5 linked regions of the Homo sapiens genome follow. The protein of the gene in region 1 purifies or fractionates together with the protein of each later gene. This does not show direct contact. Each region holds a gene or a part of one and is shown in the gene's direction. Other genes may lie near its edges. The genes, in order: SLC10A2, FAM234A, PODXL2, CNNM4 and CNNM1.

Region 1 (3,672 bases):
GTAACAGTTTTCCAAAACTTTTTATTCTTCTGGATTAAGAACTGGATAACTAAAGTCTCCTGATAATTTACTTAGATACAATCCTATCTAACATTTATATTTCCAGTTGTGTACACTTAGAATTTTACCTTCTCCATCTCCACTTGAACTCCAGCAATGGCATGAAGACATGACTGTTTATGTTAACAGGCAGCTACACTAATTGAGCTAATGCCACACAATGCCAGCAAAACCATTCCACCTGGTTTTAACTCTCTTGGTTATGGTTCTTGGGAGAAGAAACCAAAACATTTCTCTCTCACTCTGTCATCTCTTATGAACCTGGAAAGCCACCGCATTTTGCAATCTCTAGTGACTTTGAAAAACAAAAAAAAAATAGACAATAGTCCTTGATCATTGGAATCCAGCAAGTACTATTTCAGCTCCTTCTCTGACCACTCCCAGCCTGGAGTTTGTGAATCTGATTGGTGCACATATATTTTCACCTAAGTTGCAGCTGTGCCATGGACATCACATGCACAAAAAGCATCAGGGAGAAGAGATGGTGACTTTTCAGGTGAATCTGCTTGTGGCCAAAACCCATAGTTGAGAGGACACAGAAACATCCTATCTCCTTTTTGTCTGCTCTCTCCCCAGACACAGGCAAATATCCGGTGTCTTCATCCTTCTTAATGGCCTCAGCGACACCATGCAAGGACTTCTCATTTCCTTTCTTTGGCTTCCTCTTTGGGGAATCCATTCTTATGCATCCTTCTCCCAGTTGCCCCCAGTTCCTTCCCTGCCACCTACTTTCTACATTCCTTTTTATTATTTTACAGACTTTCCTACCACATCCTTTGTTCTTTGGGCAAATGCTGTTAGATTTTTCAGCTTCCAGTGCAGCATTCATTGATATTTTAGATATTCAAGAAATCTCACCCTGTAGCTTACCACAAATTCACAGCAATCAATCCTTCCTATGTCAACCCCATAAATGTCCTTCTCTTCTCTACTCTGGGAGACCTAACCCAAAACCATTCGGCTTTTTCCTTTATTCTCCCTAAAAGTAACCAAACATTGTTTCTCTCCAGTAGCACTGATTTTACTAGCTAATATTTATTAAACACTAGTATATGCCATGCACAGTGCTAAGTACTCAAAATAAGTTGGTATATTTCATCCTCCCAAGAATCCTCTAAAGTTAGTACTATTATTTTCTGCATTTGGCAGATAATGAAGTTAAGATTCATAACCTTGACCAAGGTCATTGAGTCAATGTATGCCTGAGTCAGAATTGGAATCACCCAGGTCTACCCACTACCACTTTGCAGGCTCATAAGCTTTCTCTACACTGCTTCTATCACTTTTCACTTCTCCAGTTTCTAGCACTGCCTATATACGCTACGTTAGAGCCTTCAAACTTGGTATTTTACTTCTAATATGATTACAATCTTTTACATTGCTTAACACTGATTTCACTGAATTCCTCAACATTCACTAAATTTACATTTATTCTTTCTTTTATTTCCATACACACAAAAGAAAATCTCCCTGGCAGTTAATAGAGCTGAAGTCAAAATTAAGACCAAGATTTTTTTTTTATTTTTCTTATACTTGACTCTTTTCTGTCAGTCTAATATAAATTCAAGGCAGTGTATGTATTTTTTATATACATGCCTTTTATAGAACTTCAGATTTTTTCGTGTAAGATAATATTTTCTTTTGCTAATTTAGGCTTCTATATTATTTCTTAAAATTCGTTATCTGTGAATTGTTTTAAATCTCATTTTGAGTGGTTTGATTTTGTTCTTATATTCATTCAAATAGCATCAACTTCCAGCTACCTATTCGTCTGTTCATCTGCAAGGTCTCTTCGTCAGTGCTGCTCACAAGTCTAAACCTTTCCTTCTCCAAACCCTCTTTTGTCCCTCATCACGATCCTTAAGAAACTGCTCTCACCAAACTCAAAATTATGATACAACGTCATAGATTGTCTTAGCAATATTCAGAATTAAAGGTTTTGCAAGGATCTTTGAAAAAAAAACAAAGACAGAAAAAGACTTCCTTCTTAAACATTTTCTCACATTTTAAAACAAAAATTCTCAGACTTCTCTTCACTGGAACCCAGTTAATAAATCCTCCTCACTTCCCCACCAGATTCCCACCACACTCTAGAAAAAAATATTGGATGCACAGAAAAAAAAGTGATTTTATTATAGGGACAACTTTAAATCCATTCTAATATATTTTTTAAAATAAAATAAAAAAAAAGAGAACACTGAAAGAAGAGAGGAAGGAACAGAGAAAAAAATTACCTTCAAACTCCAGTACTTTCATTATAAGTAGGACAAAGTACTATTAATAACAAATTAACTTGTTTGTCTGGTGTACAATTCTGCCTTAGCATCTATTTCATGCCTAAATTTACCTATAACCAGAATAGATTGAACTGCTTAAAGTTTTAAATACATCCACATTATTTGTTACTGTTGTAATATTTTAGCTCTACTAAAACAAGTATTTTTATCTAAATTATTTAAGCCTATTTTAAATGAGGTCATTCTGGTTAAAAATAAATATATTATTAGAGAAGTTAAGCTCTCTGATGAACTTTGTCCCACCCTGTATTTTGCCAAACTGTGCAAATTTAACTGTGCCTTGAAACAAAATTTCTCATTGTTAGCTCCTTTCTTAGTATAGTGTGTTGTTGTTGTTGTTGTTTTGGGGGGCAGGTAATATAAATATTTAACATTTTCTTTCAAGTACACCCATAATACCCTTAAGAAATTACTACTCTTGACAACCTCAATGACGACCTGTTGAGAGAAGGGCCTTTCAGAGAAATTTCTCATTTCTCTAAGTTTCCCGATTCTATTTGGTGGAACACAAGATACAAAAACATGGTAACATAAATGATCACAGCAGAGAGATGCAGGGTGCGGTGGCTCCCGCCTGTAATCCCAGCACTTTGGAAGGCCTAGGCGAGCGGATCACCTGAGCCCAGGAGTTTGAGACCAGCCTGGACAACATGGTGAAACCCCATCTCTACAAAAAATTTAAAAATTAGCCTGGCATGGTGGCTCATGCCTGTATTCCCAGCTACTCGGGAGGCTGAGGTGCAAAGATCACTTGAGCCCAGGCTTCAGTGAGCCAAGTTGGTGACCCTGTACTCTGGCCTGGGTGACAGAGAGAGACCCTATTTAAAAAAAAAAAAAAAAAAAAAATGGTAGTAGCAACCAGCTCTTAATAGAGTGCTTTGCATTGGTCTAAGTGCCGGACACCATTGGCTCATTCTATCCTTACAGCCATTTTAGATAAGGAAACTGGTAAAGAGAAGTCAACTAAATTACTCAAATTAACACACTAAGTGGCACCGCCTGCTTTCAGCCCAGACAGTGTGTGGCTTTAGAGCTCAGGCTTTAAAGGCAGAGAATGTACGCTGTGTACAGATCCCTTTGAAGAGGACCCGGAAGACTCACTCCCCAAAAATCTTTCTTTGACCCACTGTCCTAGTACTAGAGATAGCATCATTTGGCATTAATGTCTCCATGTAGATAGCCTACTCAGCCAGACCCTCTTATTAAAATGCAAACACTCTGAGCAGGGATGATACCAGACACTAGTTCTTCTGAACACACATTTGCCAAATTGCCAATAACTTACTCAGTGCTAAGAATTTATGTCTACCCTGCC
Region 2 (3,672 bases), on another chromosome or scaffold:
TACGTTGTTTCTGCCACATCCCTGGCCAGCCTCACTCGTGGAGCATGACTGCCCTGCGGCTCCTCAGGTCCTGCTTCTGCTCTCGAGGTGCTGGAGTCAGGAAGCCCAGGGGCCTGGCTCCATGTGGCACTGCGTGCCCCTGGTCCGGGTTCACAGCGTGACCCTGGTGACCTCGGGCCCTTCTGTGTTTTGAATAGCAAGCTCCCTCTGCGGCTGCTCTGTGAAGGGTCTCTACGAGAAGGTGACCGGGAGCGGCGGCCCGTTCAAGAGTGACCCGCACTGGGAGAGCATGCTCAATGCCACCACCCGCAGGATGCTTTCCCACAGGTGGGTCCGGGCCGCAGCCTTTCTCCATGCAGAGCGCCCACCCCATGGCTCTGCTCGCCTGCCTCAGCGTTCGGACAATCTGTGTGGAGCCCAGAGCAGCCCCACCGGCAGGGAGGTGCTCGGGGTACCGCAAGGTCACCCTGGGCTCAGATGTGAGAAATGGTCAAATAAAAGTTGAGTAAAGAGAAGAAAGGTTCCCGACGCTGTGCCTGTCTGTCTCCACGGAAAGTGGGGGTCTTTCTTCTCTTTTCTGTTTTTTTTTTTTTTGGTTGTTTTTTTTTTTTAAGACGGAGTCTTGCCCTGTCCCCCAGGCTGGAGTGCAGTGGTGCGATCTCGGTTCACTGCAACCTCCGCCTCCCGGGTTCAAGTGATTCTCCTGCCCCAGCCTCCCGAGTAGCTGGGATTACAGGCGCGCACCTCCACGCCCAGCTAATTTTTGCATTTTTAGTAGAGACGGGGTTTCTCCATGTTGGTCAGACTGGTCTCGAACTTCTGACCTCGTGATCCGCCCGCCTCGGCCTCCCAAAGTGCTGGAATTACAGGCATGAGCCACCGCGCCCAGCTCTTCTCTTTTCAAGCTGTAGAACTGAGAAACGGGTTATGGGGGCCTAAGAGGAGCACCCTGAGACGGGCGGTGCCAGAGCCTCCACTGGGTGCCTGAGGCCGCCCCGGGGACCCGGCGCCCCTTTCTCCCACTCTCCTGTCTAGCTCTGGAGCAGTGCGCTACCTGATGCATGTCCCAGGGAACGCCGGTGCAGATGTGCTTCTTGTGGGCTCAGAGGCCTTCGTGCTGCTGGACGGGCAGGAGCTGACGCCTCGCTGGACACCCAAGGCAGCCCATGTCCTGAGGTACAGGGTTTCCCCAAGGACCGCGCAGGTGCTGCACCCCTTCCCGGCATCCCGGGCACATCCCGTTGGCTGGCGAGGAGACAGCGCTGGGGGTGGGGCCGGAGGCCGTGTGCTGCTGCCCGGGCTTCTTGCCTGTCTCTGGTACTTGCCCCTTGCCCCAGACGTCGGCTCCGTGTCCTGGGCCCTGGTCCAGATGTGGCCATGGGAGACTGAGGGGCGGACGTGTTCCTGGGTGCTTCCTTCATCTCAGTCTCCTCACTGAGACCCCTCGTGAGCGCTTCCTCCATATTGTTCCAGAAAACCCATCTTCGGCCGCTACAAACCAGACACCTTGGCTGTAGCCGTTGAAAACGGAACTGGCACCGACAGACAGGTTCGTTGTTCTTCCTTCGGAGGTGGCACCTTTGTTCTTAGCTGAGGATAGACTGGTCTGAAAGCAGACGGGGCTGCGGCCCAGGAGGCTGCTGCCGTCAGAGCTGCTGAGAAGGTTCTGCCTCCCTCAGAGCATCTGCCTCCAGGGCTGGCATGGCTGAGGGCACGTGTGCCTGTGCAAGCCTCGAGCTTTTCCCGGTAGCCCCCACGTTGGCCCCCACAGTGTCCCCTCCCTCCCCAGATCCTGTTTCTGGACCTTGGCACTGGAGCCGTCCTGTGTAGCCTAGCCCTCCCGAGCCTCCCTGGGGGTCCACTGTCCGCCAGCCTGCCGACCGCAGACCACCGCTCAGCCTTCTTCTTCTGGGGCCTCCACGAGCTGGGGAGCACCAGCGAGACGGTACGGGAGCCACCCTCGGAGCAGCCATGCTGGGAGCCGGGGCCAGAGACCCAGGCTGGAGCTCCACCGTGGAGTGCCCAGAAGCTCATCGGTGCCTGGGCAACCTCACATAAGTTGAAGTCCAGTGACAGTCAGGATGAGGTGGTGCAAGCTGAGGCAAAGTGACCTTAGAGGGGTCCAGCGAGAAGGGGCTGATGGCCTTCGGTGGATAGGGGCGCACACAGCCATGCCCTGAAGGGAGTGGCTGCCGGCAAGGACCAGTGTCAGGACCAGGTGGGGTGGGAGGACCTGGGAGGTGGCCACAGAACTGGGGGCTGGCATTTGGGGGACCCAGATAGGGCCCCTAGCAGACATAGAGCTCCAGGCACGGTCACTCTGACAGCAGTGTCCTGTGGGAGTGCTCAGTGAAGGGCGTGGGGCCCATTGCTGGTTCTCGCTCCAGGAGACCGGGGAGGCCCGGCACAGCCTGTACATGTTCCACCCCACCCTGCCGCGCGTGCTGCTGGAGCTGGCCAATGTCTCTACCCACATTGTCGCCTTTGACGGTGAGTGTGGCCTCGGCCAGGGACCCGGGTGTTCCGCGGGGTCTGCCCTGGCTGGTCCTGAGCCGCCCTGACAGCTGTGTCCCCCACCCTGCAGCCGTCCTGTTTGAGCCAAGCCGCCACGCCGCCTACATCCTTCTGACAGGCCCGGCAGACTCAGAGGCACCCGGCCTGGTCTCTGTGATCAAGCACAAGGTGCGGGACCTTGTCCCAAGCAGCAGGGTGGTCCGCCTGGGTGAGGGTGGGCCAGACAGTGACCAAGCCATCAGGGACCGGTTCTCCCGGCTGCGGTACCAGAGTGAGGCGTAGAGGCACGCCAGCCAGAGCCTGTGGAGAGACTCCGCCTGCTGACACTAAACGTCCTGGGAAGTGGGCCCTTCCCTGGGTCTCTGCACTGACTCCCCCACTCCTGACCCTGGTGATGGTCGCCACTGGGCAGCAGCAGCCTTACCAGTCCTCCATGATCACACCCAGGGACCTGCATGGGTGAGGGGACACCCTGGGCCTCTCTCCCGCCCAGCATCCTCCCTGAGTCCCCACACAGGGCCTCACTCTGCACCCCACCAGGGTCCCGCTCACACCAGGCAGCCTTCATAGTGGTCTCCCTGGCCACCTTGGGCAGAGCTGGGTCATGCAGCACCCCATCCTTACCCGGTGCCCTCTCCTTGCCAGCTTCTCCCCAGGCCAGAGCGGCCATCGCGTAGAAAGAACCAGGGTGTCCCCGGGACAGGCCGTCCCCCACCCCATCCTGTAGAAGTCCATTCCCCTTTTCCCTCCTGTGCTCTGTCCCCCAAGGAGTCATGGAACTCAGGGTACTGGGCCTCAACGGGAACCTGAGACAGCTCCAGCTTCGCAGCCCTTCCCGGAGCTACAGGGGGATCCTCTAGCATGGGGGGTGTGACTTGGTTCCTTTGACCAGGTCCTGTGAGGAAGCCTGGAGCAAGGGTCTCCCCCAGCAGGATGGGTGGGGCCTGCTCTGGAGCTGAGCCCGTGGCCGCTCACAGGTGTCCTTAGTGGTGTTGCAGCTGTCTACTGGCTGCATGTGCTGTGAATATCCCAAGGAACTGGCTGTGGAATGCGTGTTTGGGTCAGTCTGTGCCCTCTCAGTAGACACTGGAGCTGCTCTGTCCCTGAAGAGGCCCCGTGCCCCAGGCATGGCAAGCGCCTGCCTCTCCCCTTCCGGTG
Region 3 (3,672 bases), on another chromosome or scaffold:
TTTCAGATTCTCAGTTCTTAAGATCTGATCCCTGGACAGAAGCATCACCTGGGAACTTGCTAGAAATGCAAATTGTTGGGCCCCGTCACAGACCAGCTGGATTCAGAACTCTAGGGTGGGCTTAACAGTCTCTGTTTTAACAAGCCCTCATGGTGATTCCATGCTGGTTCAAGTTTGAAAGCACTGGATTAAAACGGTAGCCATTTATTTAGCTCATGATTCTGTAGTTTGGCAATTTAGGCTGCAGTCAGCTGGGTGGTTCTGGTCTCAGCTGAACTCCTTCAAGTTTGTCATCAGCTGTTTATCACCTTTGCTGGTCTTGTCTGGCTCTCTCACTTTGGGACTTCAGCTAGGACACTGAGCTGATCTGGCTCTCTTCTGCATGGGCTCCTGTTTTCCTGCAGGCTAGCCTTGAGCAGAATCCTGAGAGAATGGAAGCGTGCAAGGTATCTTGATGCCTAGCCTTGGAAATGGCACATCATCACTTCTGCATTGTCTTGTGTAGCAACTCACAAAGGTAGCTCAGATTCAAGGAGTGGAGAATTAGATTTCATCTCTTGATGGGAGGAGCTACAAAGTCTCATTGCAAAGATGTGTGTTATTAATTGGGAGTCATTGGATAACCCCTCTCAGGAAGAACCTTAAGAAGGTACTGTTTTGGGGTAGGACAGGGCACTCTGTTTCTTTCCCATCTACCTAGTAGGGGATAGATACTGCTTTCTTCTATAATATTCGGGCTAGGAAAAAATCCAAGAGTAGCTTAGGGTCCCCCCGTGATGTGAAGGGGAATTAGAGTGGAAGAGGTCATGGGAAAGTCTTGAGCTAGAGAGAGTACAAGTCCTTAATTCATCCTCTCCCAGGAACAAAGGGGAACTTCAAGGGGAGTGGACCCCAAATTGATTGTCTTGGCTTTCTCTGCCTTTTAAATACCTTTGGCTCAAAGAAACCACAAAATATGAGATGGCTGTTTCTCTCTTTGAGTCAGGGATTCAGACACAGGCTCTGGGAACATGACTTCAGCTTCGTGGAGCCAGGCCCTGCCTGGAAGCAGAATCTTTGTCCGTGGACATGGTGCCTAGGACAGCAGAAGACATTCCGGATGGGGTGTGATAGCTTCCTGGTTTGGACTTGGCAGAAGGCAATCCCCTGTGAGCAGTCCTCAGGAGCACTGGCAACACAGCAGTGCCATTGGCTCCCACCTGCCCAGGGTCACAGCTTGCCCACCCTTTAGGTATTTTTTTATTTTTATTTTTTTGAGACAGAGTCTCACTCTGTCGCCCAGGCTGGAGTGCAATGGCACCATCTTGGTTCACTGCAATCTCTGCCTCCCGGGTTCAAGCAATTCTCCTGCCTTAGCCTACCAAGTAGCTGGAGACTACATGCGTGTGCCACCATGCCCAGCTAGTTTTTGTGTTTTAGGAGAGACTAGTTTTGCCACATTGGCCAGGCCTGTCTCGACCTCTTGACCTCAAGTGATCCGCCCGCCTCGGCCTCCCAAAGTGCTGGGATTTACAGGTGTGAGCCACCACACCCAGCCCCATCCTCTAGTTATGATGATACTTTCTAAAGCTGAGAGTTGGGCCTGTGAATTATCTTATTGAGAGACAGAGCTTCACGGGATCTTAGAGGTTGGCACAGACGTTTACTAGCCCTGGTCAGATGCTAAGGCTCTGATGCCTCCTTAGCCCCGGCGTTGGCTTTGAGGCCATGTAGAATCACTCTGATATTCTTATTCACATCAACCTTTTGTTTTAATGTATTTGAAGATACCATGGTCTCTTTTAAATATTTTTTTCCCCGGGCCATGAACTTCACAGGTCTCTGTTTTTTATATAGGATAATAACACAATATTTGTAGAATAGTTTGGTTTGTAAAGCTCTTTGTAGAGCAGCTTTCACACATGGCTCACCAATTACCTCATTTGGTGCCCCTCACACTGGAGGCATGGTAGGAATTGGTGTCCTTATTACACAGAGGAGGAGAGCAAGGCTGGTGGTGGTGAAGTCACTCAGCCAGAGAAGCCAGAGTGTAACCTATTTCCTGGTACCAGGCTTTCTCTCCTGTTATATAGAACATCTTCCTGTCTCTGACCTCAGGGCGTCTCTCTTACCCTGGAGTCTCTACTTCCCATCCCCCATCCACACAACCCAGAATACACCCCTGTGGCTGGATGTGGCATTATTGGCTGTGAGTTGTCTGGCTGCTGCACAGTGTGCACAGACTCCCTCATACGGAGACTCACAGGACAGTCTGAAATGCTCATTTTTTTCAGTGGCCAGTCACAGTATTGGCACGTATCAAGCTTAGGGCCTGCTCAGCAAAGCACATGGCACCAATAATATTAGCCCTATTTTTATTATAAGCATCACTAAAAATTGCCATGTACTGTAGTCAAGTCAGGTCACAGTACACATCTGGTGTAGAGCAAGAGGAAGACTGTGAAATTCCCTCTTCCCTAGATCCTTAAGTGTTAGTCTTGGAAAAGAATTCAGAGGTCATTTCATTTAGCTTCCTTGTCTATCTGGTGAGGAGACTGAGACCCAGAGGTCTTGAGCAGCTTTCCAGGAGCCTCACAGCAAGTTAGTAATTTGTGTGGTTAGGTCATTAAGTTAGAGGTTAAGTTGTGAAACTGGCAAATAGGGCTATATTCCTGTCCTTAAAGAATGAGAGTGAAAGAAGAGGAAAAAGGCCTCCTTTAATTTGTTTTCCTGTCCATTTATTTGCTTGTTTTGGTAAATTAGGAGAGAGAGAGAATCCAAGATTCTAAACAAATATGTCAAATTACCAGCACTGGGTTGAGTTTGAACTGTGACCTCACGTGGTTTTTTAAAAGACTACGTTCAGAGGCTGGGCTCAGTGGCGCACGCCTGTAATGCCAGCACTTTGGGAGGCCTAGGAGGGCAGATCACTTGAGGTCACGAGTTCAAAACCAGCCTGACCAACATGGCGAAACCCTGTCTGTACTAAAAATACAAAAATTAGCCAGGCGTGGTGGTGGGCACCTGTAATGCCAGCTACTTGGGGGGCTGAGGCAGGAGAATCACTTGAACCTGGGAGGCGGAGATTGCAGTGAGCCAAGATTGCACCACTGTACTCCAGCCTGGGCGACAGAGCAAGACTCCATCTCAAAAAAAATAAAAAATAAAAAAACTAAAGACTATGTTCAGGATACTGTATTGCTGAAATACAAATGATATTCATAATGCAGTTTTGGAGAAATTTCAGCCAAGGATGGAAGCCTGGGGAACACTGTGTTCGTCCAATCATACTGCTAGGTCCTTAAAAGCATGGGCCCTGTCTTCACTTCAGTTTGTAGCTCCAACACCCAGTACAATTGCCAACAGAGAGAGGGTACTCAGGAGGCATTTTCTGAGTGACCACATGCGCAGTGGAACACTGACTCAGTGATTCCTCTCTCTCCCCTGCCTGTCTCCATCTGTCTCCCCTTGCCCCTGCCATAGGGAAGTCTAAGCAATTTGGCCTTTTTGAAATGAAAATAGTGTCTCAGAATCCCCGCAAAGCCTCTGGGTTTTCAGGAGTGTCCACTGAAGTCCCCCCTTCCCCAGGACCTTTGTCATTTGAGACATGCTCTAACCTGGCACCAGTCTTGTGTCTTCTCTAGCCTCCCCTGACTGTCTGGCTTTTATGTCTGCACAGGAGCGTTCCTGGGT
Region 4 (3,672 bases), on another chromosome or scaffold:
CAAGACGTGATGCTAGGTGATGCAGGACCACAGGAGTAAGATCATCGAGTTGGTGAGACAAGCCCTCAGGCCTGAGAGTCTCCTGTGATTTGAACCTTGGCCCTTCCGCTTAAACCTCGCCTGGAACTGTTTGCAGTACTGGGTGTTGTGGGTGGGTTTGTCCACCTTGGAATCTCAGAACAAAGCCACCTCCAGCTCCTCCTGCCCCAGTTTGTGTTTTGCCTTCACCACTCTCCCAGACCCTGAAGCTAAGTAATGAAGGAAGAGGGCAGAGCTCTGCACCCCCCTTGCAGCCCACCTTCCAGCTTCTAGCTGTGCCTCACCCTCTGGGACACTCCTTCCCTCCCAGGTACTTAGCTCATCTTTAAACACCTTATCTTTCCCCACCCACCTTATAACCACCTAGACCCTGTATAGACCTGGGTGTAACTCCAGCCAGCCTGGTCACTGACCTGTGAGGTGGCCTTGGACCTGTTACTCCTCCTCTCAGCAAGGTAGTGCAGTATAAATTGGTGGGGAAAAGCTAGAAATATTTTCATTAAAAAAATCCTCCTGGCTGTGGCTCACGCCTGTAATCCTAGCACTTTGGGAGCTCTTTGGGTGGGTCACTTGAGGCTAGGAGTTCGAGACCAGCCTGGCCAACATGGCAAAACCCCATCTTTACTAAAAAAATGCAAAAATTAGCTGGGTATGATGGCACATGCCTATAATCCCAGCTACTGGGGTGGCTGAGGCAGGAGAATCGCTTGAACGGAGGTTGCAGTGAGCTGAGATTGCACCACTGCACTCCAGCCTGGGCGATAGAGCAAGACTCTGTCTCAAAAAACAAAACAAAACGAAACAACAACAACAACAAAACACCCATATTTTCATCTAGGCTGTGTCAGATTTTCCCACTGACTTAATTTTATTCCCGCAACAACTTTATGAAGTTGAGAAAAAACACTGCATGATTTTTGCATTCACTTTTGGTTCCTCTTATCTGACACACCTTAAGTAACTTATCCTCCACACCCCACCCTCCCATCCGCACCTGCTTATTCATCCATTTGTTCAACCAACAGTGACCGTTTTGAAGCCTCTGTGTCAGACACTGTGCAGGCTGTTGGGAATCAGAGATGAATAAAACTGCCCTGTTCACAGAACTCACAGTCTACCAAGGAGAGAGACACGTGAACAACGCCTAGCTGCACAGAGCTCACAGATAGGGTGCCGTGGGGCTGAGGGAGGGCAGGCCTGTGAGATGCTTCTGAAGTGAGAGTAACTAGACTCGTTGATCCTTGTGGAGATCTGGGAGTCAGGGCCCGGAAGTAGTTGTGAAAGTCTGAGGTTTCTAGCTTGGGATTCAGGTTGATTATGTCATTTAACTGCAATCGGGAAAGGGGGACGAAGAGACAGTTTAGTGAGGGCAGAGGGAGGTAAGTGGTGGTCATAATAATGGTGTGACCCGTTGCTGAGCTCCTTCTCCGTGCCCAGCATTGTTTACACTGGAGCTTCTCACACTCGACTGCCTGGACATTTTGTTGAAATGCAGACTTGAACTCAGTGGGTCTGGGTGTGGCCCGAGAGTCTGCATTTCTGACAGGTTCTCAGATGATGCCCATGCTGCTGGCCCTGGACCACACCAGTGTGCAGTAACATCTAGGCAGGCATGCAGGGGAAAATGCCCACGTGAGGCTGAGGAGCAAGGCCAGGACAACGCTAAAAGGTTTAAGAGTCAGCCAAGAGGCCGGGTGCGGTGGCTTACGCCTGTAATCCCAGCACTTTGGGAGGCCGAGGCGGGCGGATCATGAGGTCAGGAGATCGAGACCATCCTGGCTAACACGGTAAAACCCTGTCTCTACTAAAAATACAAAAAATTAGCTGGGTGTGGTGGTGGGCGCCTGTAGTCCCAGCTACTCGGGAGGCTGAGGCAGGAGAATGGTGTGAACCCGGGAGGTGGAGCTTGCAGTGAGCCGAGATCGCGCCACTGCACTCCAGCCTGGGCAACAGAGCGAGACTCCGTCTCAATAAAAAAGGAGTCGGCCAAGAGCAGGCAGAATGGAGAGCTGCTGGGCACAGTGGCTTTGTAATCCCAGCACTTTGGGAGGCTGAGGCAGGTGGATCACCTGAGGTCAGGAGTTCAAGACCAGCCTGACCAACATGGTGAAACCCCGTCTCTACTAAAAATACAAAAATTAGGCGTGGTGGTGGGTGCCTGTAATCCCAGCTACTGCGGAGGCTGAGGCAGGAGAATAGCTTGAATCGGGAGGCGGAGGTTGCAGTGAGCCGAGATCGCGCCATTGCACTCCAGCCTGGGTGACAGAGTGAGACTCTGTCTCAAAAAAAAAAAAAAAAAGAATGTGTGAGAGAGGAAAGGACAGTGCAGGGGGTGTCAGTGTGTAAAAGCCAGGCTGAGGCGACTCCTTGATGGAGACGAAGAGAACCAAGGGGGCACGCTATTCGGGAGCCTCCTTGGAGGGTCAGATGGGGTGAAGACCATGCACAGACTGTGGGATGGGACCTTAGGCTGTGGGGTGCCCAGCGAGAGCAGCCTCGGACAAGTGGTGCCCGAAGGCAGCTTTGCACCGGTTCTCCGTCAGCCCTGCCTGGTAATAGCCTCAATATGGTGATTTGATCTCAAGAAGCTGCCTGGGGGCAGGTGTATCTGAGAGTGACAGGAGCTGGTTAATACTCCGGGTGCAGGCAGAGGTCCCAGCAGGGACAGCTGACAGAGCTGTGGCCAGGCTCCTTCTCACTTTCCCTTTAGTGCAGTGCTGTGGGAAGGGAACATGAGCACGTGGAGGGGCCTGGTGCGTGCCAGCCAGTGGGCAGCTGCACCTCCTTCCTGGCTGGCCCCATGCAGCCTATGGGCGGGTTCCCAAAGAGGAGCCAGCACTGAGAGGACACTCACGTGTCTTCACTTGACAGTTCTCTTCTCAGAGCTCTTGTTTGTGCAATGGAAGGCAATGCTGTGCATCGAGGCCCTGATAGGTTCTTAGTTATTCTGGTGTTTACTTTTCAAAGGTCTCGTATTTTTAACTAGGAAATCCCGCTCCAGTGTTTTTCTGCTCACCTCTGGTCAGGACGGGAAGCACCGAGCAGATGTTTAACCTTGAAAATGGGTGAATACACAGGAGCACAACATCAGGGAATGGCCCTACAGGATCAGCAGGGGGCCCTTGGGAAGGGGAGGCCTGTCTCGTAAGTAAAAGTCTGGGAAGACATTTCAGCGGAATTTGCTAGGGCGGGTAGACATGGCGTTTTCCACTCTGGTACGTGTTGCCCTGGGAGAGCTTGGACAAGACCCGAAGGCTGAGAGGTGAGCCTCACCGTCCTTCGCAGCAGCTTTGGGGGTGTGGCTCAGGCCTCCCGGGCTGCTTCCCCTCCTTTTCTAGACGGACTTGGCGGTGCGGATCCCTGGGTGCCTTCTCTCTGCACCCCTCCCACATGAACCTGGTTGACTGAACAGCAAGGACATCTTTGAGGGGAAGGAAGCCTGGCCCCTCTGAAGGAGTCGCTACTACAGGCCTCCAGTCTCCTTGAGGGCAGGGGCCAGCATGGTTGTCCTGCACTGAGCGCTGGCTCCTGAAAGGCCGCGCAGCCATGGAGAGTGTGTATGGAAAGGCAGCCTGGGCCAGGCCTCTGTCGCTGCCTTGGTGACTGATTTTCGCAGAGCCTCCTGGTTCCTTC
Region 5 (3,672 bases), on another chromosome or scaffold:
CTGGAGTGCAGTGGCCCGATCTCAGCTCACTGCAACCTCTGCCTCCCTGGTTCAAGTGATTCTCCTGCCTCAGTCTCCTGAGTAGCTAGGACTACAGGCATGCACCACCACACCCAGCTAATTTTTGTATGTTTAGTAGAGATGGGGTTTCACCATATTGGCCAGGCTAGTCTCAAACTCCTGACTTCGTGATCCACCCACCTTGGCCTCCCAAAGTGCTGGGATTACAGGTGTGAGCCACCGCACTCGGCCTAGATTTTATCTTGACCTGACTTAGAAATGGTCCAATCTTGGACTAAACCAGTGGGGCAGTTTATGAGGCCCTGGATTAGCTGGTGCTTAGGCCTGCATCATGGAAGGGCCACTACAGTATGCAAGGACAGCTTGGTTATTCATGACTGGATGCTATTTTATGAACAACGAAGCACTGAATTTACTGCAAAGAGCTATTAAAGCTGGTGGTGCTTTCTCACATGTAAATCTGGAGAGAATTAACATTCCTCTGTGATAAGAACATGGGTCTAGTCCACTTGTTATCCAAGCAGAAATGCTTAGGATTCGAGTCAATAGTAGAACTGGAAGTGCTCATACACATTCATAGTACACTTCCTTTTTTTTTTTTCCAGGGTAAAGTGGAGGTGGAGGTTGGTAAGGAAGGCCTTCGCTTTGAAAATGGAGCCTTTACTTACTATGGCGTCCCAGCCATCATGACCACTGCTTGCTCAGGTATTCTAGTTTCCATTTGTTTATTGGGAAAGTAATGGGATATGGTAGAAAAAGCACAGGGGTTCAAGTCTTGACTCCCCCTTTGACTCTTGTTAATCAGCCTGGACAAGCCATTTAACTTCCTTGGCTTTAGTTCCTTCCTCTGCAAAATGGGTGTATGAATCACTTTTCATTCAGTTAGTGCTTAAAAAAAAAGTGACAAAAAATTGAATTGTAAAAAGCAGTAATATTGTCAAGTGTTAGGGATCTAGGGTGGTAGATTTCAGTATGAAAAGACAAGTTTATTTTGCTTTTTATACTTGTTCCCTACCCTTCCATTTAATTGCCTGGTTTTTACAGGGTTAATTGGTGCTGGGGGTGGATAGAAGAGGGAAGATTCCCATAAGAAGTGTGTTTTCTGAGTTGCCTCTGAAACCCACTGCATGCTTCTGTCCTTAGATAATGACGTGCGGAAGGTTGGAAGTCTGGCTGGATCTTCTGTCTTTCGTATGTATCTCTCAAACCCCTTCCTCGTCCTCCCCATCGTAGTCCTGCCTCAGCCCGCTCTGGGGACCTGGACCGAGCACTTTGAGCCTGGGCTGGGGCTAAGACAAATGCTGGCAGCCCCTTTGTAATGTTCTGCCAGGAACACTGCTTCCTGCCAGGTACCCACAGACCATGGGAGCTTAGGTTCTGTGTGTCTGGAATGTTTTCTGCTGCTTCTCTGCTCACATGGTTGGGGGGATGCAGGGGTTGTGAGGGAAGGCACTGCTTATTGCCACCTTCCAGTGAATGCAGGCAGGTGATTTGTGTGCTTGGGCAGAGGCTCAGCCCTTCCTTCTGTGCAATAACAATTCACCCATGGCCTTTACTCAAACACTGTCATATGCTATTATTGTGTCTGTGGGGTTTGTCCTCAGTAAGAAGTGACTGCAAGATTTGGGGATGTAAGTTCCACCTTTGTGCAATACGTTGCTTATCTGCCTCTCTTTCTTGGTTCTCCACCTCTCAGCTAGTGGAGAGGTATCTGCCAGCTGGCTGTGCATGCTGTTGGTGGGGGGCAGGCACAGGGCTGATGGCTGGTTTGCTCTGCCCTTTCTGTGCTGTGCCTTCTTGCTGTTTTCTGTGTAGTTATTGCACTTGTGCTTAAAGGGCATGGCATTTTTTGTGATTAAAAGTGTGATACAGAAAGAATTATTTCTCTAGATTTCTTTCTGATTCACAGTTCTGAATTTTGCATTGCTTTCAGCTGTTAGTGTTTACAGTGACCACTTCAATGCCAAATAGGGTCTTTCCTCTCATCATAAAAAAAGATTTTACATATTGCCTTGTGGTGGGAATTATCAGAGGGTCCCAGAGCTTGATATCATAGTCCCTGGAACATGGCAAGGTAGATACCATTTTAACATGAGTGAAACTAAGGAAATGACTTGCTTCAAATCACCCAGTAAGTTGGTGACCGGCCAAGATGCTTCCTGGTGTCCTGGCTAGTTCACACAGCACAATAAAATACAGATTTCAGATCCATCATATTCTGGAATGCAATTTCTAAGTGGAAATAGTGGAACAATTTACAGTGTAATTGTTACAGTGTAATAGCCCAGCCAGTGGTTGAAATGAAGTACCTGCCCAGTGTGAAGAGTGGCAGAACTTGAGTTGGAGGAGATCTGTAAAATTGAAAAGACCCTGGTACATTATTATACTTAAGACAATGAATCTCAATCAAGGTTGATGAAGGAAGCATTAGTGTTCAGTAGAACTCTGGATGGGTGAGGGACGGGCTACAGGACTTTGGCAAACCTTAGTTCTCTAAAGGAAATCTCCATCATCCATCACATTAGGGACTACTCCTGGGATTCTAATATGTTACCTAGAAATGTCTGTGATCTCTTCCAGAAGACTAAAAGAGGTGGAAATTCTGAGAAAAAAAGACCTACATATGGCTTCCTAGCCCACCCAATTTATATGACCTTCTTTCTTAAAAAAAAAAAAAAAGAAATTGCTGTGGCCGGGCATGGTGGCTCTCACCTGTAATCCCAGCACTTTGGGAGGCCAGGACGGGTGGATCACATGGTCAGGAGATCGAGACCATCCTGGCCAACATGGTGAAACCTTGTCTCTACTAAAAATACAAAAATTAGCCAGGCATGGTAGCACGTGCCTTTGATCCCAGCTACTAGGGAGGCTGAGGCAGGTGAATCACTTGAACTTGGGAGGTGGAGGTTGCAGTGAGCCAAGATCATGCCACCGTACTCCAGCCTGGCTACAGAGCAAGATTCCATCTCAAAAAAAAAATTGTTTTAAGTAGAAGGAAGATGTTATCTGATTTCTTCCTTTCCTTCCTTCCTGTTTCTAGTTCTTTCTTTCAAAAGCTTTCAGTTGCATCAGTGAGATAGAAATAAAGTTGCAACATTGATTTCTCCTTTAAAACTAGTTAACTGAAAAGAAACATAGCACTCTTTCTCTTTCTCTCCCCATGTTACTGAGCATCTCTGTAAATCTTCAGAAGGAAAAAGAAATATTATTAGCCAATGGGGTAAAAAGACATTTTCCATCCTCCCCGAACCCATACTTAGTGTAGTGAAGTGTGAAGTAACTGCAAAGGCCAGCCATACCCCACAGTTATCCCGGGTGAATGCTCAGCCCATGGTCCAGCCACCCAGCATCTTTCACTGGCCAAGAACCTCAACCTATAGGTTGAGGGAGAGCTTAAGTCTAAGCTAAAAGGCAATAAAATCTTGTAGGGTCTTGGCCCAGCCCCGTCCCCCTATGCTTGAAGCTAGCTTAATCAGCCTTTGAGGATGAGGAGTGAGATTATGAGTTTGCTGGAATACTGGCACGATGACCTATGCTTCAAAGTTGAACTTGAGGCTACAAAGAAGTCTCTGGCTTTCCTGCATGAGGTGAAGGGAACATAATCTACACTGTCTTCTTCTTCTTGGTTCTGATTGCCAGGAACCCAGGGTA

The links.
Region 2: the proteins of SLC10A2 (region 1) and FAM234A purify together in Homo sapiens (affinity purification with mass spectrometry; one large-scale study listed by BioGRID and IntAct). This does not show direct contact.
Region 3: the proteins of SLC10A2 (region 1) and PODXL2 purify together in Homo sapiens (affinity purification with mass spectrometry; one large-scale study listed by BioGRID and IntAct). This does not show direct contact.
Region 4: the proteins of SLC10A2 (region 1) and CNNM4 purify together in Homo sapiens (affinity purification with mass spectrometry; one large-scale study listed by BioGRID and IntAct). This does not show direct contact.
Region 5: the proteins of SLC10A2 (region 1) and CNNM1 purify together in Homo sapiens (affinity purification with mass spectrometry; one large-scale study listed by BioGRID and IntAct). This does not show direct contact.

Annotation. Positions count from the first base shown.
Region 1 is NC_000013.11:103,059,913-103,063,584, reverse strand, and holds part of SLC10A2 (ileal sodium/bile acid cotransporter), read left to right. Parts: intron 1-3,672. UniProt on the Homo sapiens protein: Plays a critical role in the sodium-dependent reabsorption of bile acids from the lumen of the small intestine. Transports various bile acids, unconjugated or conjugated, such as cholate and taurocholate.
Region 2 is NC_000016.10:262,227-265,898, forward strand, and holds part of FAM234A (protein FAM234A), read left to right. Parts: intron 1-197; coding exon 198-327; intron 328-1,035; coding exon 1,036-1,176; intron 1,177-1,473; coding exon 1,474-1,549; intron 1,550-1,789; coding exon 1,790-1,945; intron 1,946-2,387; coding exon 2,388-2,490; intron 2,491-2,584; coding exon 2,585-2,796; 3' UTR 2,797-3,672.
Region 3 is NC_000003.12:127,635,587-127,639,258, forward strand, and holds part of PODXL2 (podocalyxin-like protein 2 precursor), read left to right. Parts: intron 1-3,658; coding exon 3,659-3,672. UniProt on the Homo sapiens protein: Acts as a ligand for vascular selectins. Mediates rapid rolling of leukocytes over vascular surfaces through high affinity divalent cation-dependent interactions with E-, P- and L-selectins.
Region 4 is NC_000002.12:96,767,243-96,770,914, forward strand, and holds part of CNNM4 (metal transporter CNNM4 precursor), read left to right. Parts: intron 1-3,672. UniProt on the Homo sapiens protein: Probable metal transporter. The interaction with the metal ion chaperone COX11 suggests that it may play a role in sensory neuron functions. May play a role in biomineralization and retinal function.
Region 5 is NC_000010.11:99,363,791-99,367,462, forward strand, and holds part of CNNM1 (metal transporter CNNM1), read left to right. Parts: intron 1-626; coding exon 627-726; intron 727-1,164; coding exon 1,165-1,212; intron 1,213-3,672. UniProt on the Homo sapiens protein: Probable metal transporter.